7 linked regions of the Homo sapiens genome follow. The protein of the gene in region 1 purifies or fractionates together with the protein of each later gene. This does not show direct contact. Each region holds a gene or a part of one and is shown on either strand. Other genes may lie near its edges. The genes, in order: NDUFAF5, SDHAF4, BOLA3, XRCC2, STARD7, ALDH1L1 and CTH.

Region 1 (3,870 bases):
CCACCAGACCTGTTCTGACAGAACTAGCAACGGGCATCCTGGCCAAACGTGTGATTCCTGAATGAAGAGTCTAGACACTGGCCGGGTTACAATGGCCACTTTCAAAGTGCAGGCAATTTACTTTTGCCTGGTTTTAGCAGTGACTAACAATGTACGATCAAGTCTGGCTTTAAAGAGTCCTTGTTATTTCCACATCCTTGTACTCATTTGTGAGCCTGGTAACAAGTATGCAGTGTCAACAGTCCATCCTAATGAGCTGTCGCAACTCAACAGCTACGGCAGAAGGGAACTGGCTGAAGAATCTGTGTGCAGTTATGTAGCTCACTGAATTCTCATGGTCTTCCCAAATTCTCTGATTTCATTTGGAAATTAGCCCATCGAGGCTTCCAAAAAATTTATCCTAATATTCCCAGGAAAGAAAATTTGAGGCCTACTAAACTTAATGTGGGAAGTTAGTTCCATTTCAAGATATCATGGAATCAAACCTCCAGGCAAGAGCATTTCAGGTCTGGTGTTCTCTGAGAACAAAAGTAATACAGTTTATGTTAACTTTACCTAATTGTAAATAAGGGGGCTATGTTTTATGCTGAAAATAACAACTCAGAATACCTTGCCCACCCTAATACACCTCCTGAAGACAGTGTATCGCGTATCAGTTATCTATTGCTGTGTAACAAATTACTCTAAAACACAGTTGCTTAAACCACAAACATTTATCATCTCAGTTTCTGTAGATAAGATATTTGAGAGTGGCTTAGCTAGGTGGTTCTAGCTCAGGGTCTCTCATGAGGTTGTGGTCAATGCATTGGCTGGGACCACAGTCATCTGAAGTTTGGGCCTGGAGAATTGCTTCCAAGATGGCTCCCTCACATGGCTTTTGGCTGGAGGCCTCTGCTCCTCACTTCTAGGTCTTCTCCATGGAGTTGAGTGGCCTTACAATATGGCTGCTGGCTTTCCCTAGAGTGAAGGATCCAAGAGAGAGTAAGGAGGATGCAATGCCTTTTATTACCTAGTCTCAGAAGTGACACACCATCTATTTGTTGGAAGGGAATCACTAAACTCAGCCTGTACTTAGAGGGGAATGAAGTGTCCCGTCTTAAAGAGAAGCATATCAAAAATTTGTGGATAGATTTTAAAACCACCACAGATGGCAAAGCATTATTTTCTTATTTGTTAACAGTAACTTATCAGTGTTCACCCCACCTTCTAGTATTTTCAAATTGATGTTTTTTAAACCAGCATGGTAAAATAACTGTCATGTATGTATTCAGGTAGAGAATTAAAATATACCAATATCTGAAAAGGCAAGTCTGCTTATGATAAATTTCCTGAAGATTAATTTCACATCATTAACCACAACCCCTCCCCAAAAAAGCTCAAAATATTTCTTAAGCAAGAGAGGCTAATGGTAACTTACAAAGGAACAGAATAATAATCACTGCATCAACTATCTTTCTTTTTTCCAAATATCTACTAATATTCACTTCTTTCCTTCACAGAAGCCAATCCACGGTAAAATACTTTTATTCCACTCCTACTTAAGGAATACATAATCAATACAAAAATTGTACTTTTTTTTTTTCTTTTTTGAGACGAGGGTCTTGCTGTTGCCCAGGCTAGAGTGCAGTGGTGCGACAGCTTGCTGCAGCCTTGACCTCCTGGGCTCGATCAATACTCCCACCTCAGCCTTCTGAGTAGCTGGGACCACAGGCTTGTGCCACCATGCCTGGCTAATTTTTTTTTTATTTGTAGAGACAGGGTTTCATCACGTTGCCCAAGCTGGTCTCAAACTCCTGGGCTCAAGCAATCCTCCCGTCTCAGCTTCCCAAAGTGTTGAGATCACAGGTGTGAGCCACTGCAGCCGGCCAAAAAACTGTACATGTCTTTAATGCAGGTCATACTGTAATTGCTTCCACCTAGTGGATGAAAATGGTACTAAAAGAGTTTGAAAAAATATATAAACTTCCCTCACAGGTACTTCATGACTCACACACTTCTGTAACTTTTTACAATCATATCACATACTTGATGTATATAGGTAGCTTACATCTCAATAAATCCTACAAATTCTTCCTATAAAGCAAAAATTCTTTTGTAGGTATACATTTTCATATTTACCTTTGGAATTCTCCAGGCCAACCTGGAATATTGCTAAGAACCAGGAAATAAGCCAAACAGTCTCCTGGCAGCCAACAGGTGTCACGGTGTGCACATACTAGAGCCCTGTCAGACTGACAACTATAAAAGCAGAGACTAGTTGGATGCCTGGCACATGAAACTCAATGAAGATCTGTTAAAGGAACCAATAAAGCTCATGAATTTTATTCCAAAGGAGTCTTTCTCCCAGAACCTAGTTCCTCTTTCCTACCTTAATACAAAAGTCCTAGAAATCTTTCAGTATGAATTCTAATCTTATAGCTAAACAGAGAAGAAATGACTCAAGAAAGTTCATTTTGGTCAAGGTGTTGAGATTGACAACTGACAGCAAGTAAGAAAAGTGCTGGAAAAGACACAAAACCAACCACAGCATTCTTGGGACCAGTCTGGGAAGAAGCAATACAGACAACTTGAGTTTATGATATTATCTGTGGGGTTATCAAGAAATGGTTATTGGCCAGGCCTGGTGGCTCACACCTGTAATCTCAGCACTTTGGGAAGCCAAGGTGGGCAGATCACAAGGTCAAGAGATTGAGACCATCCTGGCCAACATGGTGAAACCCCATCTCTATTAAAAATACAAAAATTAGCCAGCGTGGTGGCACGCGCCTGTAATCCCAGCTACTTGGGAAGCTGAGGCAGGAAGAATCACTTGAACCCAGGAAGCGGAGGCAGCAGTGAGCCGAGATTGCGCCACTGTACTCCAGCCTGGAGACAGAGCGAGACTCCGTCTCAAAAAATAAAATAAAATAAAAAATAAAAAAATAAACCAACAAAAAAGATGATTATTTATCATATACCATTTAAGAATGTAACATTTATGAAAAATTTTTGATAAAGACCTTTTAAAAGTTTCATTGCTTAAAAGGATGAGCTCTTAATCATTTGGAAAATGTGGTTATTCAGAAAAATTAGTTTCCTGAGGGCTCCAAACAATAAAAGCTTAATAGCACACTTCCAGCAGATTTAACTACAAAAATAATTTCACTAGTGTTATACACACTAAAATAAGTGTTTTCACTACAATCACTCACATTAAACAATAAGGGTCCTCAATTAGCTGTGTTTGATTTACTTAATTTTTTTAAACAAATGGAGCTTTTTTTGGGATAGCCAGAGTAGAGTAATCCTTAGCTCCACCCCACCATCCACATATAATTCCGTTGACATTAAATAAGCAAAAGTAATATTCTTGCTTGGAAAATTCAAATTTTACAGGAAGTTTAAAAAGTGAAAAGTACAAGTCTCCCTCCTAGTTTCTATACCCCTGACAGACATTCAAACAGAATGACACAGACACACCCAGTTCCTCAGTCCCCTTCCTCAGCAACAGCCACTTAACACTGAGATGTGTTCTTCAAAAACAAGTATTAGTGCACAAAAACACATGTCCTTTTGGAAATATAGACCCCTGGAATTTACCCATTCCTCCATCATCAGTTTGCACTTTAAAACACAGGGTTTTTGGTGGATTTTTCTTTAGATGAGGTCTCCTCTTTTGCCCAGGTTGGAGTGCCGTGGCACAGACAGCTCACTGCAGCCTTGAACTCCTGCCTGCCTCAGCCTCCCAAGTAGCTGGGACTACAGGCATGCGCCATTGCACCTGGCTAGCGCAGTTTGTTTTTTGTTGTTGTTCTCTCTCTTCAAGTTCTGAAAATTAAGCTAAAAAAAAAAAAAACCCCAAAAAACAAAACGCCAAATTCTACTTCACAG
Region 2 (4,343 bases), on another chromosome or scaffold:
CCAGCCTAGGTGAAAGAGTGAGACTCCATTTCAAAAACAAAAACAACAACAAAAATATATTCACAAGGTTGTACAACCATCACCACTATCTATACCTAAAACATTTTCATCATCCCCACAATGAACTCTGTACCCACTAAACAATGACTTCTCCCTTAGTCCCCGGAGTCCCTGATAGCCTCTATTCTACTTTCTGTCTCTATGAATTTGCCTATTCTAGGTACCTTATATAAGTGGAATCATATATTTGCCCTTCTGGGTCCAGCTTATTTCACTAAACATAATGTTTTCAAGGTCCATCCATGTTGTAGCATATATTAAAATTTAATTGCTTTTTATGACTGAATAGTTTTCCACCGGATGTATATGCCACATTTTGTTTAATGATTCATTTGTTTGTGAACATTGGGTTGTTTCCACCTTTTGGCTACTGTTAATAATACTATGAACATAGTTACAGAGATATCTGTTCAAGTCCCTGCTTTCAATTCCTTTAGATACACACCTAAGAGTGGAACTGCTGGGTCAAACGGTAGTTCTAAGTTTGATTTTTTGAGGAACGGCCATACTGTTTTCCACAGTGGCTGCAACATTTTACATTCCCAGCAGAAATGCCTGAGGGTTTCAATTTCTCCACATCCTTCCCAACACTTGTTATTTTCCATTTTTTTCTATTATAGCCATCCTAGTGGGTATGAAGTAGTATCTCATAGTTTTGATTTGCATTTCCCTAATGATAATGATGCTGATGCTGAGCATCTTTTCATGTGTTTGTTGGCCATTTGTACATTTGTATACCTTCTCTGGAGAAATGTCTACTCAAATACTTTGCTATTTTTTATTTTTATTTTTTGTAGATTACTGGAGTTCTACACACACACACACATACATATAATATACACATATATTTGTTATTTATTTATCATACCTCATTATTCATATAGCAAAATATATAAGTTAAGACTCAAGTGCTTTGCTATTTTTGACTTTTCGTTGAGTTATTGGAGTCCTTTATATATAATATGTGTACATTACATATATAAAGTGGTTATATTTATTATACCTCATTATTCACATAAGATCTTTGATACAAATAACATAACCTTCTTTGATACAAATAACATCATTTATTTGTAACAAAGAAGGTCTCAACTTATATATTTTGTTATGTGAATAATGAGGTATAACAAATAAAACAAACACAATCAAATACCTGTCAGAATCTTGAAAATCTTTTTTATTAAGAAATCTACATGTATCGATGGTCAATATGGTGATTTTACTCATTGTTGAAATATGCTTTATTACTACAGAATTTAAGCAATAACAAATTTCTTTCCTTTCACTCATTTTCTCAATAACTAAAACACTTTCCTTGATACTTCAAAAACTGAGAGGTGCTTTATTATACTTACTTTCCAGTGGTTCTTTCTCTAAATGGGAATCCTCTGGTGCATCAAAACGACCTTCTGGTAACTTCGGCTTCTTAAGGGACTGTTTGACAAGTTCAGACTTTCCTCCTTGAGAAGAACTTGTTTTCCTCAGAGAATGACACAGAAGGGGTGATCCTAGAAGAGTGGAGATAATAGAAAAATAGGAGCTGTTCATTTATTCCACTTTAAACATTTATAAAATTTTATTTATTTGTTTTTAGTTTATACATTCACATTTCTCAAAGTTCAAAAAGTACAAAAGGACGCAGAGTGAAAATTCTTCCTTCCTCTCCAGCCATTTCCCTTCCTGGAAGACCACCAGTTTGAAAAGAAGGGCTATGAAATAAATTAGTTAATTGTTATCAATATTGCAGAAACTTATATTAAAACATTAATTCCTATCTGAAGCAATGCCAAAAAACCAGGAGTTCAAATATTAAGAGTAACTTAGTAGTACAAACTTTTCAATGACAATATTTAGTATTCAAATCTCTAAAAGTCAGAAGTGGCTACATTTAAATCCTAATCAAGGTCCTCTTTTCCTGTCAACTAATTTAAGAATACATCAAGTTGGGCATGGTGGCATGCACCCGTAGTCTCAGTTATGCAGGAGGCTGAAGAGGGAGGATTCCTTGAGCCCAGGAGCTCAATTCTAGTCTGGGTAACATAGTGAGACCATGTCTCTAAAAAAAGATTGTTTTATGGGGAAAGAAGTCCCTATTTGATAAATGGTGCTGGGATAGTTGGCAGCTATGTGCAGAACAATGAAACTGGACCCCTATTTGTCACCACATACAAAAATTAACTCGAGATGGATTAAAGATTTAAATGTAAGACCTCAAACTGTAAGAATCCTAGAAGAAAACCTCGGAAACACTCTTCTGGACATTGGTCTTGGGAAATAATTTATGACTAAGTCCTCAAAAGCAACTGCAACAACAACAACAACAACAAATTGACAAATGGGACTTAATTAAACTAAAAAGCTTTTGTAGAGCAAAAGAAACGCTCAACAGAGTAAACATACAACCTACAGGATGGGAGAAAATATTTGCAAACTACACATCTGAGAAAAGTCTCATATCCAGAATCTATAAGGAACTTAAACAACTCAACAAGCAAACAACAACCGCACTAAAAAATGGACAACAGACATGAAGAGACACTTCTCAAAAGAAGACATATAAGCGGCCAACAAACATATTAAAAAATGCTCCACATCACGAATTGGTAGATAAATGCAAATTAAACTCATAATGAGAGACCATGTCACATCAGTCAGAATGGCTATTATTAAAAAGTTAAAAAACAACAGATGCTGGTGAGGCTGTAGAGAAGAGGGAATGCGTATACACTGCTAGTGGGAATGTATCTTAGTTCAGCCACTGTGGAAAACAGTTTGGAGATTTCTCAAAGTACTTAAAACAGAACTATCATTTGACCCAGCAATCCTGTTACTGGTATATACCCAAAAGAAAACTACTCATTTTTCACACCAGAAAGACACATGCGCTTGCATGTTCACTGCAGCACTATTCACAATAGCAAAGACATGGAATCAACCTAGGTGCTCATCAATGGTGGACTGGATAAAGAAAATGTGGTACATATATACCATGGAATACTATGCAACCATAAAAATAATGAAATCATGTCCTTTGCTGCAACATGGATGCAGCTGGAGGCCATTATTCTAAGTGAACTAATGCAGGAACAGAAAACCAAATATTGCATATTCTCACATATAATTTTCTAATTCTATAGAGTGAAACACTGGATACTCAAGAACATAAAGAAGGCAACAATACAAACTGGGTACGACTGTCAGGGAGGGAAGAAGGGGATGCAAGGGTTGAAAAACTAACTTTTAGGTACTATGCTCATTACCTGGGTGATGGGATTATTCGTATCCCAAATCTCAGCATCACACATATACCCAGGTAACAAACCTGCACGTGTACTCCCTGAATCTAAAATAAAACTTCGGATTTTAAAATGTACTGGGTGTCTGCAATGCGTAAATGACATCATTTTCTCTCTAGTTTCTAAAAAGAGTTGAACTTTCTATGCTATAAAAGTTATCCAAACCCTCATTGAGATAATATTCAGCAAGGGCAAAACCACAGGGAAAAAAGTGATCTCAGCGTTAGGGGTTTCCAGCTTCCTAAAGAAATTGCTTTTAGAAGCAGATCAATTTGAGTACAAGTTCTAGCTACACCTCTGTAGCAAACAGAATAATGGCCTCAAAGATAATCAGAATCCAATACCCAGAATCTGTGAATAGGTTTGGTTACACGGTGAAGAATTTTGGTAGCAGACAGAATTAAGGTGGCTAATCAGATGACCTTAAAATAGGGAGGTTATCCAGGATTATGGGGTGGGTCAATGTAACCACAAGGGTCCTTTGAAAGGGAAGACAGGGTTGGAAGACAGACCAGACCCGATGTTGCTGGCTTTGAAGATGGAGGAAGGGGGCAAGCCAAGGAATGTGGGCAGCCTCTAGAAGCTAAAAGAGAGAAGGAAATGTATGTGGCCTCCAGAAGGAACACAGCCCTGCTAACTCCCTGGTTCTAGCTCAGTGAGACCCCTTCCAGACTCCTGACCTCCAAACCTGTAAAATGTGTTAAGCCACCAAATTTGTGGTAATATGTTACAGCAGCAATAGGAAACAAATGCAACCACTTACTAGGTGTTGGATGTTGGTCAAGTTACCCTTTTTGTTTCCTTCCCTGTAAACAGAAAAATTACAGTACCTGTCACATGAGATTGCTGAGTAAACGGGACAATTTATGCCTTTAGGATAGTGATAAACAGTATTTATTTTTAGTTTGATGGAATTATCTGTAAGCTTTTGACAGCATTACATATTAGAATGTTTTTTCATTACACATATTTTTCTCATATTCTAGT
Region 3 (4,343 bases), on another chromosome or scaffold:
CTATGTTTACTGTTATTGTCACATATTGATGAGTATATCTAAACACAGACACTGCTAAAAGATACATGTTTTTGTAGATCTGAAGAGGGGTTTTTTGGCCTCTCTTTGGGACTGCTTTACAGATGAGTCAGTTGATGCATGGCATGAGTGAGAATGGCTGCAGCTGCCCCAGACCCAATGACAGAACATTTGGGTTCTGGAACATCACGTTCAACCAGCCTAAGGCTCAGTTTAAATATTATCCATATTTATTTTAATTTGGAATTTATACCAACTTTGACCCTTGTACCTGTACCTATGAATTTGCCCCCTCACTGGGTGTGTTTGGCATCGTTCTGGAAGGTCTTGCCATTGTGAACTAGTGTTATTTTTGTAAAGCACAGCACTGGTAATGAGCGTCTCTTCGGTGGCCTCTCATGCATTGAGTTCAGGTGTCCTAGACTGCTGTTCACGCATTTCCCCCCACCCTTCTCTGCGTGCACCCTCCCAGCCGGCCTCTGCCCGCTGGTCTCTCTCTTTCTCTATCTGGGCCTTTGCCCAGATTGGACCTTCTGCCTGGGTTGCCCTTCCTCCCGTCCTCCACTCAGCTCAAATGCTGCCTCCCCTCCCTCCCCAGCAGGGAATGAATGCCGTTCCCCCACCCTCCCCGGCCCCCTTTTTTGGCTGTCGGTGTTTTCCGTCTTGTGTCCTGAAAACGGACATCTCTGCTGTCTGACCCTGCAACCTGTCAGCCCTTTGTGGACCAGTGCCCTTTGGGATCCATCTTTGTGTTTCTCATGGAACGTAGCCCTTTGCAGTGGATGTGACCCCTACAGCCCTAAGGCATGCTGGTGGTCTGCTGGGTGCTCCATCACTGAGCCCTCCCGGAAACTCTTGCAGTCCCATGTGATCTCTGGGGTCAGAATCAAGGCAGAAGACAAGACAGGGAAGACCTGGCTGGCCAGATGATCCCCAACCCGTGGCACTTTGGGTTTTATTCTCAGATCTGTACAAGCCACCTGGTGTGACTGGACCCATAGGTGCTGGTAATTTGAGTGTGTCCCTTGGCCTGAAACCACAGTTACAAGTGGTTAAGGAAGCAGTTTCTGGAATTGGACTTCCCACTTTCAAATCTGGGCTTTGCTACTTTCTAGCCATGTGACCTTGAGCAAGTTTTTCAACCTCACCCTTTGCCTCAGTTTCCTAATTGAGAGTAACAGTACTTGCTTCAAAGTGTTGCTGTGAGGATTCGTGATAAAGTACACGTTGACCACTGACAACACTGCCCGACACATAGTAAGCCTTCCATAAATGTGACCGCCATCACCATCATTGTCATCTCCAACACTGGAAGGAACCTGCACCAGTCTGGGGTGGGGAAGGGCTGTGATTCCCACAGTTTGGGGGAGTGTCACCTCACGGTCTTGGGATTAAGGTGTCTTCTGGCCCCCTATAGCAACATGTGCCTCTCCTCACACTTCCTGAGTAGACAGCCCAGTCACTTGTCTTTCATTCCCCCTCGAAAGCAGGCTTACTGCAGGACGGGGCTGTGTCCCCCACACCTAACAAAGGACCTGGCACATGGAAGGAGCCCAGTCAGTATTTCTTGAGAGTTTGCAGAGAGTGAGGAGAGTTGGCTTGTGTTTTCTTATTGGCTTACCCATGGAAATTATGTTTTAGTATCTGAAAGGCATTCTGTTTTGGAGAACTCACATCCTGACATTGGGGCACTTTTTAAAAATATATACTTCTTTTTTTTCCCTCCCACAGAGTATCACTCTGTCACCCAGGCTGGAGTGCAGTGGCGCTATCTCGGCTCACTGCAACCTCTGCCTCCTGGGTTCAAGCAATTCTTCTGCCTCAGCCTCCCAAGTAGCTGGGACTACAGGCGCCCGCCACCACACCTGGCTAATTTTAGTATTTTTAGTAGAGATGGGGTTTCACCATGTTGGCCAGGCTGGTCTCGAACTCCTGACTTCAGGTGATCCACCTGCCTCGGCCTCCCAAAGTGCTGGGATTACAGGCATGAGCCACCATGCCCAACCTTAAAAATATACATTTTTATATTTATATAGAGATGGGGTTCCACTATGCTGCCCAGGCTGGTCTTGAACTCCTTGACGATCCTCCTGCCTCGGCCTCCCTAAGTGTTGGGATTACAGGCGTGAGCCACTGTGCCCAGAGCAGCTGCATCCTGAGTTATTCTAGAGGCCTCTCCTCTGCCCCCAGCCAGAACAGCCCTTCTGGCTCAGGACTTGGGGGGGTCATGCAGCTCCACACTGGATGTCTGCAGGCAGCTGACATGAGGGGGTCCCCTGAGCCTGGCCACAGTACATTCTTAGGGGGCTGACACTTGTGTTAAAATATATGGACTTGGTCATAGGCAATTTTAGATGATTTAAGTCTGGAGATGTTGGCTTTGACAGTCGCATGAGAAGAATGAAAATGAAAATCTTCAGGAACAAGTCTGTTGGCCGGCAGGGTCTGAGCCGGGACCTGGAGCTGCCCTGCTCAGGACAGCTGTTGGGAATGGGGTTCTGACAGGCACTGCCCTAGGAGGAGGCAGAGACCTGGAATCAAGGGGAAGGCAAGGTGGTAACTGGACTCCACTCCCAGGGCCAGCTGGTCTCTTCAGGAGTGAGGTGGGGGTGGGGTAGGTGCCCCATCCAGATGCTCTCATGCCCAGGCTGTTTGGGTGGGGGCCTGGTGTCCTGACGGGGTGAAGCTTGCCTCATCTATTTTGCCTACTCACCCTATGCGTAGTAGTGTTCATCCTGGTGCTGTAGAGTCAGAATTTTCTGCCCAAAAGGCCTGAAAAGGTCGCCCAACCCATCCGATACTGGCATCCCTCCTGAGCTTCCCATCAGACTGTCCCTGCGGGATTCCCTGGAGGGGGCGCCCCCTGTCGGCACCCTCAGGAATGGACTCGTTCCTCTGGGACCCTGCTGCGCGGGGCTCAGCCTCTCCCAGGGCCCAGTGCGTCAGCCTTCTCTTGGGAAATACTTACTGGGCATTTGCTGTGGGCCACGCCCTAGGAGGCCTAGATGTTGAGGGTTTTGTACCAGGAGCACCTCCCTACCTGTCCTCCTGCCATCCTGGGGAGGTGTCAGCAAGGGTAGAGTAGGTAGGTAGCCACGGTGATCACTGAGTTGCCTTTTGAGGTGGACAGAGGTGAGATTTGAGCCTCATATTGGCAAATATTGCATGAGGCATTGACCACAGGTGCCCAGCGTCGTGCCTGCCACGTGGAAGGCAGTTGCTAAACAGCTGTTGCCGTCTCCCTGCCTCCGGCCTCTTTCCAGCTTAGGGGATTGCCCTCCCCTAAGGCGCCTCCACCAATGTCTTTCCCCTGCTCAGAGCCTTTACGTGGCTCCCCTGGTTGCCCAGAATCCAGTCCAGTCTTCCTAGCCTGGGATTGCCCATTCTTCATGTGATCTGCCTCAGTCTCCCTGACATGTGCCTACCTCAGTGAATCACGGGAGCTTCCCAGCCTCTCCTCACTTTGCTGTCCTGGGGCAGATGCCCTCTCACTCTTGCCTGCTCCACCTCTGGCTCCAGCTCCAGGGCTGCCTCCTGTGTGTGGCCCTTGTGCGTCCACCCCAGTCACCAGTGCAGTAGCTCACCTCGAACACCGGAAGCAGGGCTGTGCTGGCTTGAGTCTGGCAGTCCTCTGCTGCCCACATTCAGCCCATTTGTGTTGGACTTAATGCTACTTTCTCTTTCATTACTTTCCCACGCCTTTTCCTCTGTGTCCCCAGCACCTACTATAGTGCTGTGGGCATAGCAGGTGCTTAAGAATGGTTATCCAAGCTGCATCTTATTACCCATGGGACTTCGGCCAAGTCACTTCCCCCAGCAGGGCCCCAGTTTCCTTAACTGTAGAGTGACTCAGGTGATCTCTAAGACCCTGTGTGGCTGTAAGGGACTGTAGTGTGTTTTGGGAAGCCCTCAGGGGCTGCACAGAGAGCAGGGAGAAGGCATCAGGGAGGGGGAGTGCGCAGGGCCTGAGTGGGTGAAGCCCAGAAGGTTCCTCTGTCCAGGGTCAGTCACATGAAGGTGTGACTGGGCCCTCACCCAGCCAAGGTGGATGTAAGGAGGAGAGGCTGGTTGTGGTCCAGGCACAGACACAGTCTCTAGGGAGCATTCCACGCCTGCAGAGAGCAAGTGGCCCAGGGACCTTCGCCCAGTGATTATATGAGGCTTTTTCCAGGGACATTTCTGCCTGTCCGCAGAGTTGAGGGCCCTGCACTTGATTGTGGAGCTGGAGGGTGTGCAGTGTAGGCCAAGTGGGGCAGCTCATTGTCCCCCAACACAACAGGAGCTCCCGGATCAGGGCAAGTCAGGAACATGATGGAAACCAGGTA
Region 4 (4,343 bases), on another chromosome or scaffold:
TTTTTTTTTTACAGCCTTTTGACTGTTTAGTTTAAATAGGTTACACTATGTTGCTAGCCTTGGCCCAAGCATCCTTTCACCTCGGCCTCCCGAAGTGCTGGGATTACAGGCATGAGCCACGATGCCTGGCCTCCCCATCAGTTTTGTTGAAAACAGCAACTGTGTTGGCTACATCTTTATATCCCTAGCACTTACCTCAGTTCCTGGAACATACTTGACTTGCATGAAATGTTCACCGGTAAGTGGCCAGGCATGGTGGCTCATGCCTCTAATCCCAGCACTTTGGGAGGTCGGTGCAGGCAGATCACTTGAGGTCAGGAGTTTGAGACCAGCCTGGCCAACATGGTGAAACTCCGTCTCTACTAAAAATAGAAAAAATAGCCGGGTTTGGTGGTGGGCGCCTGTAATCCCAGCTACTCAGGAGGCTGAGGCAGGAGAATCGCTTGAACCCAGGGGCTTGCAGTGAGCCGAGATTGTGCCTCTGCACTCCAGCCTGGGCGACAGAGTGAGACTCTGTAAAATGTTTACCATTAAATGTCTGTATAATTGAGCATTATCTCTTTTGCAGACTAAATGCTTGCTCCAGCAATGCTGCTGCTGCTGAAGACATTTGGGACACCTTGTTAGTGTTCAAGTTTCAACTAAAGGAATGGTTGAAAGAAGTCAGATAATCGCCCAGACAGGACCTCAGATGGCTTTCCTCCTGTTTTTTAATTTTTAACTTTTATTTTTCTGTAGAGGTGGGATCTCACTATGTTGCCCAGGCTAGTCTTGAACTCTTGGCCTCAAGTACTCCTGCCTCAGCCTCTCAAAGTGCTTGGATGACAGGTGTGAACCACTGCACCTGGCCTGATTTTCAGTTTAATAGGTCCAAAAACTCAGTTTAGTCCTTGTACTCATATTTGATTAGTCTCAGTGATACTGAGGTTGTATAGCATAGTAGAAAAATTCCAGGCTTTGAGAATCACAGAGATCTTGATTAAATCCTGGCCCTGACATTTACTAGTTTTCTCATGTGAAAAATACAATAGTAACAAATAGGGTTGATGTAACAATTAAAGGACATAATATAAAGAATGTACTGCTGATCCCACAGTAAGCTCAAATAACTATTATTAGATAGCTATTGTTACGATAATAGAACTTAGCAGATGCTGATTTACAATCCAAGTATCAAATCTATTGACTCACAATATTAGTGAAACTGTCAAATAGATTAAAATTATTATGTCCACTGTGTATTCTTTTCTAGTTAGGAAATTTTGCCTCGGAAAGGTTGCTTAGAGAATTAAGAGAAACAGTTTGTCATAATGGCTATCATCACCAAGCTCTGATGCCTGATGTATTAGTCTTCCCTAAGAGGATTAAACTGTCATGTCAAGCAGAATTTACTTGGGTTCCCTTTACCCTGGACACTTAACAAACTCTTCTTTCGCTTCTGAAACTGCAGGTTGACCATACCTTGCTTCTATTGACTCTTTCCTTGAATCTGGACATCATTAATTTTAATTTTCTGTAATAGGCCTATGTCAGATTTTTGGAGTACCTCTTTTCTTATCCATGGAGGATATGTTCCAAGACCCCCAATGGATGCTGAAACCACAGATAGTAGTGAACCCTATATACACTATGTTTTTTCCCATACAGTAATGAACAGGTAGTGTGTACAGCATGGATATGCTGGACAAAGGGATGATTCATGTCCCACGTGGGACAGAACAGGATGGTACGATATTTTATTATGCAACTCAGAATGACATGCAATTATTGAAAACTTGTGTATTTATTTCTAGAAGTTTCTGTTTAATAGTTCCGAACTGTGGTTGGCTATAACTGAAACCACAGAAAATGAAACTGCAGATAAGGGGGGACCAGTGTATTTTCTGCCTATGTTTAGAAGTTTCTTTTTTTTTTTTTTTGAGATGGAGTCTCGTTCTGTCTCCTAGGCTAGAGTGCAGTGGTGTGATCTCGGCTCACTGCAACCTCCACCTTCTGGGTTCAAGTGATTCTCCTGCCTCAGCCTCCCGAGTAGCTAGGATTACAGGCGCCCACCACCATGCCTAGCTAATTTTTTGTATTTTTCATAGAGATGGGGGTTTCACCATGTCAGCCAGGCTGGTCTGGAACTCCTGACCTCAGGTGATCCACCTGCCTCAGACTCCCAAAGTGCTGGGATTATGGGTGTGAGCAACAATTACAATTGTTAATTGTAATATTAACAATTTGCTTGGCTTGTGAATTGTTAATATTATCCATTACTTGTAAATTTAAATCTATTTCCTATTTCTGGGAGGTTCTTTCACCCCCTTTATAATTCAGTATACTCTGCTTTGACGTTGTAAAACGTTGCTTTGGATATTCTCAGTGGTGGACAGTTTTTCTCCTTTGAAATTAAATTTGATTTTCTAAGTAACAGTGGAAAGTCTGATGCAGATTGCCTAATCCTTGTGGGTAACTAAGAGGAGTAATACCATCTTCGCCCAAAAGAGTCCCGTCAATAAAATTATAATACTTTTTTTCTTTTTTTTTTTTTTTTTTTTTGAGACGGAGTTTTGCTCTTGTTGCCCAGGCTGGAGTGCAATGGCGTAATCTCGGCTCACCGCAACCTCTGCCTCAGACTCAAGCGATTCTTCCGTCTCAGCCTCCCCAGTAGCTGGGATTACAGGCATGTGCCACCACGCCTGGCTAATTTAGTATTTTTAGTAGAGACAGGGTTTCACCATGTTGGTCAGGCTGGTCTCGAACTCCCAATCTCAGGTGATCTGCCCACCTTGGCACTCCCAAAGTGCTGGGATTACAGGCGTGAGCCACCGCACCTGGCCTATAATACTTTCTTGAGTACTATTTTGCCAGGATTTCTCAGGGGTGAGGATTCTACAGTGTTTTGAGAAATGACAGTAAGAGTAAACAATTGGAGTGTCTTCCCAAGTTAATCTAATGAGGATGTTATTCATTCGTATACATGCCTTTGAAGATATTTTATAGTTGTTTCCACGTGCTCTTTCTTGTCCATGAAAGTCTCTCTGTCTTGCTGGGCGCAGTGGCTCATGCCTGTAATCCCAGCACTTTGGGAGGCTGAGGCGGGTGGATCACCTGAGGTCAGGAGTTTGAGACCAGCCTGACCAACATGGCGAAACCCCATCTCTACTAAAAATACAAAAATTAGCCAGGCATGGTGGCACACGCCTGTAATTCCAGCTACTTAGGAGGCTGAGGCAGAAGAATCGCTTCAACCCAGGAGGTAGAGGTTGCAGTGAGCTGAACTTGTGCCACTGCACTCCAGCCTTGGTGACAAAGCGAGACTCTGTCTCAAAAAAAAAAAAAAATAAAGAATCTGTATTTTTCTTTGAGTTATACTCTTTCAGTCTTGTAGCCCAGTGGTTCTTATAGGTTTTAGTCTTAGGACTATGTAACACATTTAAAAGTGGGAGATTCCACTGGGCATGGTGGCTCATGCTTGTAATCCCAGCACTTTGGGAGGCTAAGGTGGGAGAACTGCTTGAGTCCAGGAGTTCGAGACCAGCCTGGACAACATAGGGAGACCCTGTCTCTGCAAAAAGTAAAAAAATTAGCTGGGTTTGGTGGCACACACCTGTGGTCCCAGCTACTCAGGAGGCTGATATGCAAGGATTGCATGGGCCCAAGAGGTCAAGGCTGCAGAGAGCCATGATGTCATCACTGCACACTCCAGCCTGGGTGACAAAGCAAGACCCTGTCTCAAAAAAAAAATTATTGAAGAATCTAAAGAGCTTTTCTTTATGTTATATGTGTCCATGAAACAAATTTAAAATTTTAAAATATTTACATTCATGTACAGTGACACACACATTGAATATTTTTATAAAACATATTTTTATGAAAAAAGCTGTATTTTTCTAAGAAAAAACTGAGAAAAATGATGTTGTTTTACATATTTGCAAATCTTTTTAATATCTGGCTTAATGGAACTGGGTTCTTATGCAGTCTGTTATCATATGTTGGTTGGGTTAAAGTATATGAAGAACATCCATCCTCTCAGAGAAAGTCACGTTGGGAAAGGGAGGAGTATTTTAAGACCTTTTCACAGAATTATAGATATTCTTCTTGGTTACTGTTACCAAAGCTTGACAAGTAGTAGTTTTCCTAAAGGCTAACTACAATGTGGGATATAAAATCTTAAGACCTTGGCCAGGTGCAGTAGCTCACACCTGTAATTCCAGCACTTTGGGAGGCCAAGGCAGGTGGATCACTTGAGCCCAGGAGTTCGAGACCAGCCTGGGCAACATAGTGAGACCCTGTCTCCTAAAAATAACAAAAAAAATTAGCTGGACATAGTGGCACGAGCCTGTAGTCCAGCTACTTGG
Region 5 (4,343 bases), on another chromosome or scaffold:
ATCACTTGAGCCCAGGAATTTGAGGCCAGCTTGGGCAATGAAGAAAAAAATTTTTTTTAAAGAATGACACTCAAGAGTTGTGCTTAGTTATTGTTGAAGGATGCTTTATAGACCTCAAAAATGCTGTAATCGATGCCCTATGGTGCCTGATTGTTCTCTGAGCAAATCTAGCTATGGTTTTGCTTTTGCTCTTCTTCTGCAACATCTAAATGCCTATCCTAAGGTTCCTTCTCTGTTTCTCTATGGTTTTGCAGCTGGTCAGGGTTCTTGGTTGTAACAAAGAAACTGGTCTTGGTTAATTTAAGCCAAAAAGGAATTAATCAAAACGGTATTAGGTCACTCAGTATTGACAAGGCCAGGGTACAGGTTGACCAAGACCTGCAGCAGGAATAATCTACTTAGAGCAGTGTTGCTGGCATTCTTTCCCCCAGATTGGTTGTACTCCTGGACTCCCAGCTCCCTCAAGATCCTGTGCCTTTGTGTTATCTTCAAGATGCAAAGCCCCTTCTAGAAGTCTCTAACCTCACTTAAATTAGGAGCTGTGCTTTAACTGCTTGTGGGCGGGAGGGGGGCTGCATTCACCTATTTGGGTTCTTTCCAAATAGAAAGGGATTTCAGGCAGTCAAAATGACAAATATTCCCCTATATAAATATTTTCATCCAAGTCCAAAGCTTAAAATTCAGCAAATTCAATTTTAGAACTAATAGGACTTCAAGAAATAACGTCCTCACTTTAAAGGTAAAATAAAATAAGATCACACAGCTGGTCAGCTGTAGAGCCAGGACTAGAACACAAATCTTTAGACTTACCATTATTTTGAATTGCTCTAAACTTTTAATCTTGGATTGACACTATACCTTTGAATTTTTGGCTTTTGCAGCAATATATTAATGCAATATATATATATTTTTGAGACAGTTTCACTCTCACCCAGGCTGGAGTGCAGTGGCACGATCTCAACTCACTGCAACCTCCATCTCCTGGGTTCAACAGATTCTTGTGCCTCAGCCTGCTGAGTAGCTGGGATTACAGGCGCAGGCCACCATGCCTGGCTAATTTTTTTTTGTAGTGCTGGGATTACAGGTGTGAGCCGTTGCACCTGGCCAATTTTTTTTTTTTTTTAAGAGTCTTACTCTGTTGCCAGGCTGGAGTGCAGTGGCATGATTTTGGCTCGCTACAGTCCCGACCTCCAGGGCTCAGGTGATTCTCCCACCTCTGCCTCCTCAGTAGCTGGGACTACAGCTGCATGCCACTACGCCCAGCTATTTGTTGTGTAATTTTTTTTTTTTTTTTTTAGAGGTGGAGTTTTGCATGTTGCCCAGGCTGGTCTTGAAGTCCTGGGCTCAAGTGATCTGCTCACCTTAGCCTCCCAAAATGCTGAGGATTATAGGCGTGAACCACTGCCCCAGGCCTTAATGCAATCTTTTAATAAAAATTTGGATTACTGAGGCCTATTTTCATTTTATTATTTCTTGATTTACTAAATTTATTCATGTAATGTATGTAATGTTTACCAGGACATGTAATGTTTACCAGGACATGCTAGGAGCTGGAACTACAAATATGAAAAAGACTGATTCTGGGCTATTAAGGAATTTATAGTTTAGTAAGGAAAGCAGATATAAAGATAGATTAATTATAGTGTAATATGCCTGTGTAAAGGAATAAAAATCAGTGTGTATGGTTAACTCTGCCTAGCAGTTACCTTTGTGGTTTTTTGAAGCTTGAAGGGTGAAAAGGCATTTCAGACAGTGTAGCAGTAATTTGGGTCTTCTTCAGTCTTGAATTGCAATAGAGTGTATAAGACAGCCAGCCAGCAATTTTTGTTTCTTATCTGTAACCTTTCTTTAAATGTTGCAGGGGGTAGGGTGAGGTGGAGGGCACGGAGAAGCTGGGTATGGTAGCACACGCCTATTGTGCCAGCTACTTGGGAGGCTGAAGTGAAAGGATCTCTTAAGCCCAGGAATTTGAGGCCAGTTTCGGCGACATAGTGAGACTTTGTCTCAAAAAAGAAGAGGTTATGGGAAAAATACAAGCCAAGTTTTAAAAAATTATTATTATAAAATGTTTCAGATATATAAAAAAGGTTTAAATAATAACACGAGCGTTGCAAGTACAGCTATGTTAAGAAATAAGATATTACAAGTATACTTAGGGTTCCTCTGTACCTTTTTCCAGTTGTATTCTTATTTTTCCCCAAGATGTCACCATTATCCCAATTTGTTGTATATAATTCCCTATGTTTTTATACATATGTATATACCCCTGAATGATACATAGTGATACATAGTACAATATATGGTGGTGTTTTTCATGTTTTAAAACTTTTTGCAGCCGGTGAGTCCCGCCTGGAATCCCAGCACTTTGGGAGGCCCAGGCTAGTGGATCACTTGAGGCCAGGAGTTCAACACCAGCCTGGGCAACATGGTGCAACCCCATCTCTACTAAAAATACAGAAAACAAATTAGCTGCATGTGGTGGTGCTTGTCTGTAGTCCCAGCTACTTGGGAAGCTGAAGTGGGAGAATCACCTGAGCTTGGGGAGTTAAGGCTGTAGTGAGCTGTGATTATGCCACTGCACTCTAGCCTGGGCTCAGAACAAACAAAAAAAAACCACACAACTTTTCGCAGTCCTGAACAAAATACTAACAAACTGAACTCAGCAATATATGAAATGGATTATATGCCATGAAAAGTAGGATTTATTTAAGGAACGGCAAGGTCGGTTCTTCATACAAAAATCAATTTATTACACCATATTAATAGAAAAAAGGACAAAAACTGCGTGATCATCTGAATAAACACAAAAAGTATTTGACAAATTCCAGCCTCCTTTTGTGATTAAAAAAGAAAACACTCAGCAGACTGGGAATAGAAGGAAATTTCTTGCAGCTGATAAAAGGCATCTACAAAAAACATAGCTAACAGTGTAGTTAATGGCAAAAGACTTAGTGCTTTTCTCCTAAGATCAGGAACAAGATGAGGATTCTGCTCTCACCATTTCTGTTCAACATTGTACTGGAGGTCATAACCAATGAAATCAGGCAACATAAGGAAATGAAAGTCATTTAGATTGGAAAGAAGAAATAAAACTATCTCTATTTGCAGCTGACATGATCTTATATTTAGAAAATAGTAAGGAATCTACAGAAAGCAATTAGAGCTGATAAATGAGTTCATCAAGTTTGCAGGATACAAGATCAATACACGGAAGTCATGTTTATGTACACTAACAATGAATCTGAAAATAAAATTAACAATTTCATTTACAGTAGCATAAAAGGAATAAATACATACGAATAAATTAACAAGTGTACAACTAAAACTGTAACACTAAAAACAACAAAACATCATTGGAAGAAATTTAAAAAGACATAAGTGAAAGACATCCCGTGTTCATGGATTAGATTAGAACACTTAATATTGCTAAGATGGCAATACCACTTAAAGTGATCTACAAATTCAGTGTAGTCTTTATCAAAATCCTAGGCAGTTCTGCAGAAATTGGCAAGCCACTTCTGATAGTCATATGGAAATGAAAGGAACTCAGAATAGCAAAAACAGTCTTGAAAAAAGAGAACAAAGTTTGGAGGACTCACTGTTCCCAATTTCAAAACTTATTACAAAGCTACAGTAATGACATTGTGGTACTGGCATAAGGATAGACATCTAGATTGTTAGAATAAAATTGAGAGTCTAGAAATAAACCTTTACATTTTTGGTCAGTTTTCAACAAGGATGCCAGGATAGTTCACTGGGGAAGGAATAGGCTTTTCGACAAATGACACTGGGTCACCTGGAGAAGCAGATGCAAAAGAATGAGTTTAGACTCCTACCTCATTATCATACACAAACATTAACTTGAAATGGGGTAAAGACCTAATGTAAGCTAAAATTCTAAAACTCTTAGAAGAAAATATAGGCATAAGTTCTTATGACCTTGGATTAGGCAGTGGTTTCTTGGCTATAACACCAAAAACAAGCAATCAAAGAAAAAATAAACATCAAAATTAAAAACTTTTATGCATGAAAGGATACTATCAAGACTAGTATAAGCACATGAAAAGGTTAGGGAAATACCAGTCAAGACGCAATGAGATACCATTTCACACCCACTAAGTTGGCTGGAATAACAAAGATGGACAATAACAAGTGGGGCAATTGGAACCAAGGATGTGGAGCAGTTAGAATCCTCAAACATTGCTGATGTGAATATAAAATAGTGTAATTGTTTGGAAAACATTTTGGCAGTTGCTTAAAAAGTTAAGCATAGTTACCATGATCCATCAAATCTGCTCCTAGGAATCTACCCAAGAGAATTGAAAACATGTCTATATGAAGAT
Region 6 (4,343 bases), on another chromosome or scaffold:
GTTAGTGGGTACTGGCCAGGCACGGTGGCTTACGCCTGTAATACCAGCACTTTGGGAGGCCGAGGTGGGCAGATCACCTGAGGTCAGGAGTGCGAGACCAGCCTGACCAACATGGAGGCTCTACTAAAAATACAAAATTAGCCGGACGTGGTGGTGCATGCCTGTAATCCTAGCTACTCGGGCGGCTGAGGCAGGGGAATTGCTTGAACCCGGGAGGCGGAGGTTGCAGTGAGCCGAGATCGTGCCACTGCACTCCAGCCTGGGCAACAAGAGTGAAACTCCGCCCCCCCAAAAAAAACGTTAGTGGGGACTGACAGAGAGGTGTTGATGTCTCCAACTGTAATAATAGTGGATTCATCTATTTCTCCTTAAAATTCTGTCAGTTTTTGCTTTACACATTTTAGCACTGTTGTTAGGCACATACATATTAAGGAGTATTATGTCTGCTGGGATAATTGACTCCTTTACCATTATGTAGTGCTTCTCTTTATTCCTAATAATTTTCCTTTCTCTGAAGTCTGCTTTATCTGAAGTTAATAGAACTACTCCATATTTCTTTTGATTAGTGGTAGCACGGTATATCTTTCTCCATCCCTTTATTTGTAACCTATCTGGTTTTTATGTTGAAATGGGTTTGTTGTAGACAACATATAGTTAGGTCACGATTCTTTATTCACTCTAGATAGTCACATGTTTTAATTGGTATATTTACACCATTGATATTTGAAGTGATTTTTTGATATAGTTGGATTAATATTTACCATATTTATTACTGTTTTCTATTTGCCCTTTGTTTCTTTTTTCTTCCACACTTTTTTCTGCCTTTTCTGATCTTAACTGAGCATTTTATATGATTCCATTTTCTTTTCTCTCTTAGCATATCAGTTTTACTTTTTTGTTGTTGCTTTTTTAGTGGTTGACCTACAGTTTGCAATATACACTTAAATCTAATTTAAGTCTGCTTTTGAATAACACTATACAACTTTATGGGTAGTGTAAGGGCCTTATTGCAGAGTATTCTTGATTCCTCCCTCCCATGCCTTATTATTACTGCTATCATTCATTTCACTTATCCATAAGCTACAATCACTGAATACATTGTTGCAATTATTATTTTGAACAAATTGTTATCTCTCAGATTAAGAATAAGAAAAAAAATTATTTCACATTTATTTCTAATACTCTTTTGTATGTTGAGTTTCTGACTTGTTTAATTTTCCTTTTTTTCTGAATTACTTCTTTTAACATATCTTGTAAGGCAGTTTACTGGTGACAAATTCCTTCAATTTTTGTTTGAGAAGTCTTTCTCCTCCACTTTTGAAGGACAATTTTACTGCATACAGATGGAATCTAGTTAGTTCTAAGTTGATGGAATGTTTTCAGTTCTTTAAATAATTCTTTCTATTCTATTCCTGATTGCATGGTTTATGAAGAGACGTTTGATGTAATCCTCATCTCTCTCCCTCTATAGGTAAGGTGTCCTGCCCTGCCTCTCCCTGGCTTCACTGAAGATTATCTCTGTGTCTTTTATTTTTTGCAGTTTGAATATGATATGCCTAAGTATAGATTTTTTGGGGGGTGGGGGGTGATCTTTATCCTATTTGGTTTCCTCTGAGCTGCTTGGATCTTGGTTTGGTATCTGTCTTTAATTTTGGAAAATTATCAGTCATTATCACTTCAAACATTTTTACTATTCCTTTCTTTCTTTTTATTCCATCTGATATCCCTATTACAAGGATTTACACCTATGGCAATTGTCCCACCATTCTTGGATATTCTGTTTTGTCTTTTTTATTCTATATTTCCCTTTGCATTTCAGTTTGGGAAGTGTTTGTTGATATTTCATCCATCTCATTGATTATTTCCTCAACTGTATCCAGTCTATTGATAAACCTATTAAAGACATTCTTTGCATTTATCACAGGGTTTTTATTTCTAGACTTTTTTTGATTTTTTTCTTAATTTCCATCTCTCTGCTTACATGACCAATTTGTTCTTATATGTTCTCCACATTTTTCCATTAGAGCTCTTAGCATTTTAATTATCATTGTTTTAAATTTTCCATCTGAAAATTCCAACATTGCTTCCATATCTGATTGTGGTTTAGGTGCTTGTTTCATCTTTGCAAACTGTGTTTTTGTCTTTTATATATCTTGTAATTGTTTTGCAGAAAATCAGATATAATGTATTGGGTAAAAGGTACTGAGGTAGATAGGCTTTTAGTGTGAGGTTTGATATTTACCTGTCTAGGAGTTAGAATGTGTTTACTATTTGCTATAGCTGTGGGTATCAGAGGATATAATTTTCTCTCTTCATCTTCTTGTTTTTGTCTACCCTGTTGTCTTTGGGTTTTTGTAGAAACTCCTTAAATAGGCTCTGGCTTGCAGTTCTCTTATCCGTAATCCCCTTGTTACTATACTGGAGCCCTGTGGATGTAGTAGCAAGGTGTTTTGGTGGGGGGAAGTGTTTTACAGTCCTACAATTAGGTCTTAGTGTTTCAGTGAGCCTGCACCCCTGGGCTGTGACCTTCACAAGTGTTTCTCAGTCCTACCCCTTTTAGGTGATGAGAAAGGCTAGAGGGGCTGGATTTGGGTTTTTCCTCATCACTTAGGTTAGTTAGGCCCTGGGTGTCCATTCACTTAGGCTCTGGTATAATAGTTTCTATGAGGGTAGATATGTTGAGAAAAAAATGACTGCTTTCCTTGCCTCCTGCCAAAACCAGAAGGGGATTTTTCTCCAATCCTTACTGTGAGAACTGTAAGAATTAAAGAAAGAGGAAAGAAATACAAAAGCTGGCTTGCCAGTTAAGACATTTATTTTAGAGAAAATCAACCTGAAAGGAGCCTTCTGGCCAAGTTAGGTCAGAGGCACACTCTCTTACAGACTGAGTTTTTAAGGATTCAGGATGGGAGAGTTTATCAGAGGCTTGGACTGCTTCTGTGTCTCTTTGTTGTGCTTATCTGGGAGGGAGAGTTGTGTGCCTGTTTTCATACATTTTTCCTGCAGCTGCAGGTATAGTCCCTGAGTCTGTTTTTACTTATTTATTGAGACAGAGTCTCGCTCTGTCGCTAGGCCGGAGTGCAGTGGCGCCATCTCGGCTCACTGCAACCTCTGCTTCCCAGGTTCAAGCGATTTTCCTGCCTCAGCCTCCTGAGTAGATGGGACTACAGGCATGCGCCACCACGCCTGGCTAATTTTTTGTAGTTTTAGTAGAGACGGGGTTTCACCGTGTTAGCCAGGATGGTCTTGATCTCCTTACCTCGTGATCCGCCCGCCTCGGCCTCCCAAAGTGCTGGGATTACAGGCATGAGCCACCGCGCCCAGCCAAGAGTCTGCTTTTAGCTTTCCTGTCTTAGTGCCCCTGAAGGAAAGGGAATGTGCTTGTTCCTTATTATTAAGGCCCACTGTTTTACTGGGGCCCATCGTATGAGGGTGAAGTTTGGCAGTTACCCAAGATACTTTCCCCCCACCTCCCTTTGTGTCCCAGCTGTCTTATCCGTGTTTTACTGTCTGCTCTTTCTGGCTGCTTGTAGTTAGAAGAGAAGTGATTTCCTTGAAATGCATGAGGCTAGAAAGGGAGCTGGAATTTAAAGTGGCGGTGTTTGTCTGAGATGACAGTACTCCTGCTCTATCATTCCAGACCCTATGGTTATAAAAGGACAAGAGGGGACATGTTCTTTCTAGCTACTTCCTGCTGATGCGGGGGTGGAGAGTTTTTTGGTCTTAGATTGACTGTAGGATCAACACCATTTGTAGATGTTTTTGGGTAGTTGCGAAATGGCCATGATTCTGTCGGTTAAAAATTTTTGATAAAGGTTAATTAGGCAGAGTAAAAACATTAGTCCTAGGCTTTTCAGCAGCATTTTTTATTAGGCCCGACTGGTTGAGACAGAAGTAACTTTTTTTTTTTTTTTTTTTAATGACAGGCAGAGGTGCATGTTTGGAAAGACCCATGTGTTATTTTTTGTTAGTAACTGTTATTCCTGCTATGAGGATAATAATTAAGCAAAATGCTACAGTAATTGAGATTCTCTGTCAGATATTCCACTCTGAGGGTTCACAGTCCTACTGCAAATAGTAGAGTGAGTACAGCAGTTCCCGCGAGGGTGTCATAGTAAATAATTTTCATTAAAAAAGGTTTTAATAGTTGGCTTAAAAGGAGAAGTAGAAACGACAAAAAGTATTTGGTGAGGTGGGGTTGAGACTGAGTAAGATGAGCAATTTTTACTTAGTTACTTAACTTTTATGATTTTTAGCTTAAGATTTCTTATTTATTTTTTTACATGAATAGGACTTTTTTTGGACTGTTAGGGGTTGCTTTCTCAGCTCTTTAGGCTTTGACT
Region 7 (4,343 bases), on another chromosome or scaffold:
TTTTTAAAAATCAGCTAAGACCACTAAAGGGAATTTGAAGAGCTGAATGAGAAACGGGAGGTACCTTTCTGTGGCAGAAGCCACGTGAATCCAAACTTTTTTTTTTTTAATCTGCAGGGTACAGCTGCAGGTCATGGTAAGAAGGTGATGGTGGGGAGGGGTAAGGATATCCTGGAGCCCTATAAAATATGTCTGCTCAGGTTGGGCGCGGTGGCTCACGCCTGTAATCCCAGCACTTTCGGAGGCTGAGGCGGGTGGGTCATGAGGTCAGGAGATGAAGACCAACCTCCCCAACGTAGTGAAACCCCATCTCTACTAAAAAAGTACAAAAATTAGCTGTGTGTGGTGGCGTGCCTGTAGTCCCAGCTACTCTGGAAGCTGAGGCAGGAGAATCGCTTGAACCCGGGAGGTGGAGGTTGCGCCACTGCACTCCAGCCTGGCAACAGAGCGAGACTCCCTTTCAAAAAAAAAAAAGTCTGCTCAACTTGTCATAAACAAGGGCACATAGCAACAAAACTTTTAGAAGTTATTGTTGTTAATACTGGGAGCTTCTGAATCAGAAACAAAGGTGAAAGAGTGGTTGTGTTTTGTTATGTTATGTGAAGCAGAGGGAGAAAATTATAGGACTTCTAATTAATGTTCGAATCCTTGGTTCACAATCCGGTTTTGACACTCCCTAGGTACTATTGCATTTGGCTTCACTTTCCTCAAAGCCAGTCATAAGGATTAGTAGAATGACTGGATGAATATAGCTAGCAGGGTGCCATATATGTAAAAGGAGAATAATGCAATTTTTTTTTTTCCCGAGACAGAGTCTCGCTCTGTTGGCCAGCCTGGAGTGCAGTGGCACTATCTCGGCTCACTGCAACCTCCGCATCCTGGGCTCAAGCAATTCTCCTGCCTCAGCCTCCCGAGTAGCTGGGATTATAGGAATGCAAATTTTTAAAAAGTATTGTGTGGAGCTGTTTTGCCAGGAATTGCTCCCTATGCTTTGAGCCACTTTTGTAGAGCCAAGATGTGAATGAATGTTGAGCATTGGTAGGATGTGATCATAACTTCCTGTTGTATGCTAAATAGAACTTGAATCAGCCTGACAGATGGCTCACTCCTGTAATCTCAGCACTTTGGGAGACCAATGTGGGAAGATTGCTTGAGGTCAGGAGTTCAAGACCAGCCTGGGCAACATAGCTAGACTGCCTCTACAAAAAATAAAATTAAAATATTTGTTAGGCATGGTGACATGCACCTGTAGTCTTAGCTACTCAGGAGGCTGAGATCGGAGGATTGCTTAAGCCCAGGAGTTTGAGGCTGCAGTGAGCTATGATTGCCCCACCGTACTCTAGCCTGGGCAACAGAGTGAGGTCCTATCCTTAAAAAAAAAAACTTGTATCACTTAATCATTTATTTCTTAGGAAATGAAATACAGGTTAGAATTAGGTTTATTCTGTTGGCTCATGCAAGTCCCTTTTCCTAATGTTTCCAGATTAATGAAAAAAGGTGAGTCTAACATAATAAACATACTAATAATAAAAACTGTCATTTATTTAGTGATTAGCATGTGCCAGGAAACATGTAGTGAATTTGTGCATTATCTCATTTTATCTTCACAACAATTTTATGAACCAGATATCTGTATTTTATTCCCATTTTACAGATATTGAGATTGACTCTTGGAAATGTGAAGTAACTTACCTAGTGTCATGCAGCTCATAAGTGGCAGATACAGAATTCACATAGAGTTTGTTTGACTTCAGAGCATCTTGACTATAGCCACAGCACTGTTCTGCTTCTGTATTAAAGCAAGACATATCATGACTAAAGAATAGAAACTAATTATGGTAGGGTGAAACTATAGTTCTCTATGTTAGGACTCTGATAATAAACTGAAATCTCTTAGGATGAACTCGAACTTGTTTTTTTCAGGGTTTTGAATATAGCCGTTCTGGAAATCCCACTAGGAATTGCCTTGAAAAAGCAGTGGCAGCACTGGATGGGGCTAAGTACTGTAAGTAATTTCCATTTCACAGTCTAGAATCTATTTTTAAATGTATAGAGAAAACCATAGAGGCACAGAATGTGGAACTGAAAAGAAACAGATTTGCTAGTTCAAAATTCCTGTTCTACTGCCTTTGAATTCTTTGCCCAAGGTCCCTCAGTTGGTATAATATGCATATGTGTAATCATCAGGTAAAAATACGTATGAATAGAGGACAAATGAATAAAGGAAAAAATTCACACGAATACTACATTTATTAATACTACATTTATCATGTAGTATTCATGTGAAAACAATCTTCATCTGAAACTGTCAGTATAAATAAATAAATGGAAATTAAATTTAATAACACCACCTATTAGAATATAAAATCTTTTTTTGAGACAGGGTCTCTCATTCTGTTGCTCAGGCTGGAGTGCAGTGGCACAATCTCTGCTCATTGCAACCTCCTCCTCCAGGATTCAAGCGATTCTCCTGCCTCAGCCTCCTGAGTGGCTGGGATTGCAGGTGTGCACCACCACACCCTGCTAATTTTTTTTTTTTTTTTTTTTTGAGACAGAGTCTTGCTCTTGTCGCTCAGGCTGGAGTGCAATGGCAGGATCTCGGCTCACTGCAACCTCCGCCTCCTGGATTCAAGCAATTCTTCTCCTTCAGCCTCCCAAGTAGCTGGGATTACAGGTGCCTGCCACCACGCCCAGCTAATTTTTTGTATTTTTAGTAGAGATGGGGTTTCACCATGTTGGCCAGGCTGGTCTCGATCTCCTGACCTCGTGATCTCCCGCCTTGGACTCCCAAAGTGCTGGGATTACAGGAGTGGGCCACCACGCCCAGCCTTTTTTTTGTATTTTTAGTAGAGATGGGGCTATTTTGGCCAGGCTGGTCTGGAACTCTTGGGCTCAAGTGATCTGCCCACCTCGGCCTCCCAAAGTGCTGGGATTATAGATGTGAGCCACCACACTTGGCCTAAACTTGCTTATCCTCTGGTTTATTCACCTAATAATTTGTGCCTGAGAATAGCACTAAAGTTATTTTCAGTGGTCAATAACTCCTGATAATGTGCTGTCAGAGATTAGAGATTAACTCCCTAAACTTTTTTTTTTAATGAAGAGAGTCTTGTGTATTCATTGTGATTACACTTATCAGACAAATCTCAGGTCTGATTGCGAGTTTTGTTAAAATATTTACTGAATTGCATATTCATATAATTAACGTATGAATCATATCTTTGCTCTATTCTTTATGTTTGAAATTTCTCTTTTCTTTCTTTTTTTTTTGATATGGAGTCTCCCTCTGTCACCCAAGCTGGAGTGCAGTGGTGCAATCTTGGCTCACTGCAACCTCCACCTCCTGGGTTCAAGCGATTCTCCTGCCTCAGTCTCCCTCGTAGCTGGGATTACAGGCATGTGCCACCATGCCTGGCTAATTTTTGTATTTTTAGTAAACACAGAGTTTCACCCTGTTGGCCAGGCTGGTCACGAAATCTTGACCTCAAATGATCCACCTGCCTTGGGCTCCCAAAGTGCTGGGATTATAGGCATTAGCCACCACGCCTGCCCTGAAATTCCTTTAGTTTGCTATTTTTAAACTGTAGTTTAACTGGCAATAGGCCTTTTATCTCAGATATTTGTAAAGAATTATTTTCTTGAAGTGTTTCAGAGAAATATTATTACCAAGGCAAAATTGACTTAACACAAAAGTATCTGTCCACATTATATATTTTTTATTTTAAAGATATCTTATTCTTGAAATAGAAAAGGAGATTTTGTAATGGTATTAATCAGGGGCCTCTAGCAACTCAGCAGTGATGGCTTCCTATCTGCATTAAAGTAAGTCAGGTAAATACTTGGAGGTGTGTTGTAACCTATAGGCCTGACTTTTCAGCTTACTCTAACTTGATTTTTATTTTAGGTTTGGCCTTTGCTTCAGGTTTAGCAGCCACTGTAACTATTACCCATCTTTTAAAAGCAGGAGACCAAATTATTTGTATGGATGATGTGTATGGAGGTAGGTGACCCCTCTCATTTATATTCTGTAAACTTGTATTTTACAGATAATAAAGTGAGCCCTGAATTAATATTAACAATGTTGCCAGTATTTTTGATTATTTATTATAGTTTACAGGTGTGACAGGTACCTCTATGCTCTCTCAGACTTGGGAAAAGAGGAGCATAAACACTTAGGGTCCATGTTCTGGAACTGCTTATAAGAGAGATTATTTATTTATTTATTTGTTTATTTTTAGATAGGATCTCACTCTGTCACCCGGGTTGGAGTGGAGTGGTACGATCTCAGCTCACTGCAGTCTCCGCCTCCTGGGTTCAAATGGTTCTCATGCCCTAGCCTCCTG

What was found.
Region 2: the proteins of NDUFAF5 (region 1) and SDHAF4 purify together in Homo sapiens (co-immunoprecipitation; one large-scale study listed by IntAct). This does not show direct contact.
Region 3: the proteins of NDUFAF5 (region 1) and BOLA3 purify together in Homo sapiens (affinity purification with mass spectrometry; one large-scale study listed by BioGRID and IntAct). This does not show direct contact.
Region 4: the proteins of NDUFAF5 (region 1) and XRCC2 purify together in Homo sapiens (affinity purification with mass spectrometry; 3 studies listed by BioGRID and IntAct, with this or other methods). This does not show direct contact.
Region 5: the proteins of NDUFAF5 (region 1) and STARD7 purify together in Homo sapiens (affinity purification with mass spectrometry; one large-scale study listed by BioGRID and IntAct). This does not show direct contact.
Region 6: the proteins of NDUFAF5 (region 1) and ALDH1L1 purify together in Homo sapiens (co-immunoprecipitation; one large-scale study listed by IntAct). This does not show direct contact.
Region 7: the proteins of NDUFAF5 (region 1) and CTH purify together in Homo sapiens (affinity purification with mass spectrometry; one large-scale study listed by BioGRID and IntAct). This does not show direct contact.

What each region holds. Positions count from the first base shown.
Region 1 is NC_000020.11:13,818,409-13,822,278, reverse strand, and holds the end of NDUFAF5 (arginine-hydroxylase NDUFAF5, mitochondrial), read right to left. Parts: 3' UTR 699-3,870; downstream 1-698. UniProt on the Homo sapiens protein: Arginine hydroxylase that mediates hydroxylation of 'Arg-111' of NDUFS7 and is involved in the assembly of mitochondrial NADH:ubiquinone oxidoreductase complex (complex I, MT-ND1) at early stages. May also have methyltransferase activity.
Region 2 is NC_000006.12:70,576,639-70,580,981, reverse strand, and holds part of SDHAF4 (succinate dehydrogenase assembly factor 4, mitochondrial precursor), read right to left. Parts: intron 1,569-4,343; coding exon 1,416-1,568; intron 1-1,415. UniProt on the Homo sapiens protein: Plays an essential role in the assembly of succinate dehydrogenase (SDH), an enzyme complex (also referred to as respiratory complex II) that is a component of both the tricarboxylic acid (TCA) cycle and the mitochondrial electron transport chain, and which couples the oxidation of succinate to fumarate with the reduction of ubiquinone (coenzyme Q) to ubiquinol.
Region 3 is NC_000002.12:74,137,683-74,142,025, reverse strand, and holds part of BOLA3 (bolA-like protein 3), read left to right. Parts: intron 1-4,343. UniProt on the Homo sapiens protein: Acts as a mitochondrial iron-sulfur (Fe-S) cluster assembly factor that facilitates (Fe-S) cluster insertion into a subset of mitochondrial proteins. Probably acts together with NFU1.
Region 4 is NC_000007.14:152,665,604-152,669,946, reverse strand, and holds part of XRCC2 (DNA repair protein XRCC2), read left to right. Parts: intron 1-4,343. UniProt on the Homo sapiens protein: Involved in the homologous recombination repair (HRR) pathway of double-stranded DNA, thought to repair chromosomal fragmentation, translocations and deletions. Part of the RAD51 paralog protein complex BCDX2 which acts in the BRCA1-BRCA2-dependent HR pathway.
Region 5 is NC_000002.12:96,198,363-96,202,705, reverse strand, and holds part of STARD7 (stAR-related lipid transfer protein 7, mitochondrial isoform 1 precursor), read left to right. Parts: intron 1-4,343. UniProt on the Homo sapiens protein: May play a protective role in mucosal tissues by preventing exaggerated allergic responses.
Region 6 is NC_000003.12:126,170,000-126,174,342, reverse strand, and holds part of ALDH1L1 (cytosolic 10-formyltetrahydrofolate dehydrogenase), read left to right. Parts: intron 1-4,343. UniProt on the Homo sapiens protein: Cytosolic 10-formyltetrahydrofolate dehydrogenase that catalyzes the NADP(+)-dependent conversion of 10-formyltetrahydrofolate to tetrahydrofolate and carbon dioxide.
Region 7 is NC_000001.11:70,414,033-70,418,375, forward strand, and holds part of CTH (cystathionine gamma-lyase), read left to right. Parts: intron 1-1,923; coding exon 1,924-2,005; intron 2,006-3,904; coding exon 3,905-4,000; intron 4,001-4,343. UniProt on the Homo sapiens protein: Catalyzes the last step in the trans-sulfuration pathway from L-methionine to L-cysteine in a pyridoxal-5'-phosphate (PLP)-dependent manner, which consists on cleaving the L,L-cystathionine molecule into L-cysteine, ammonia and 2-oxobutanoate.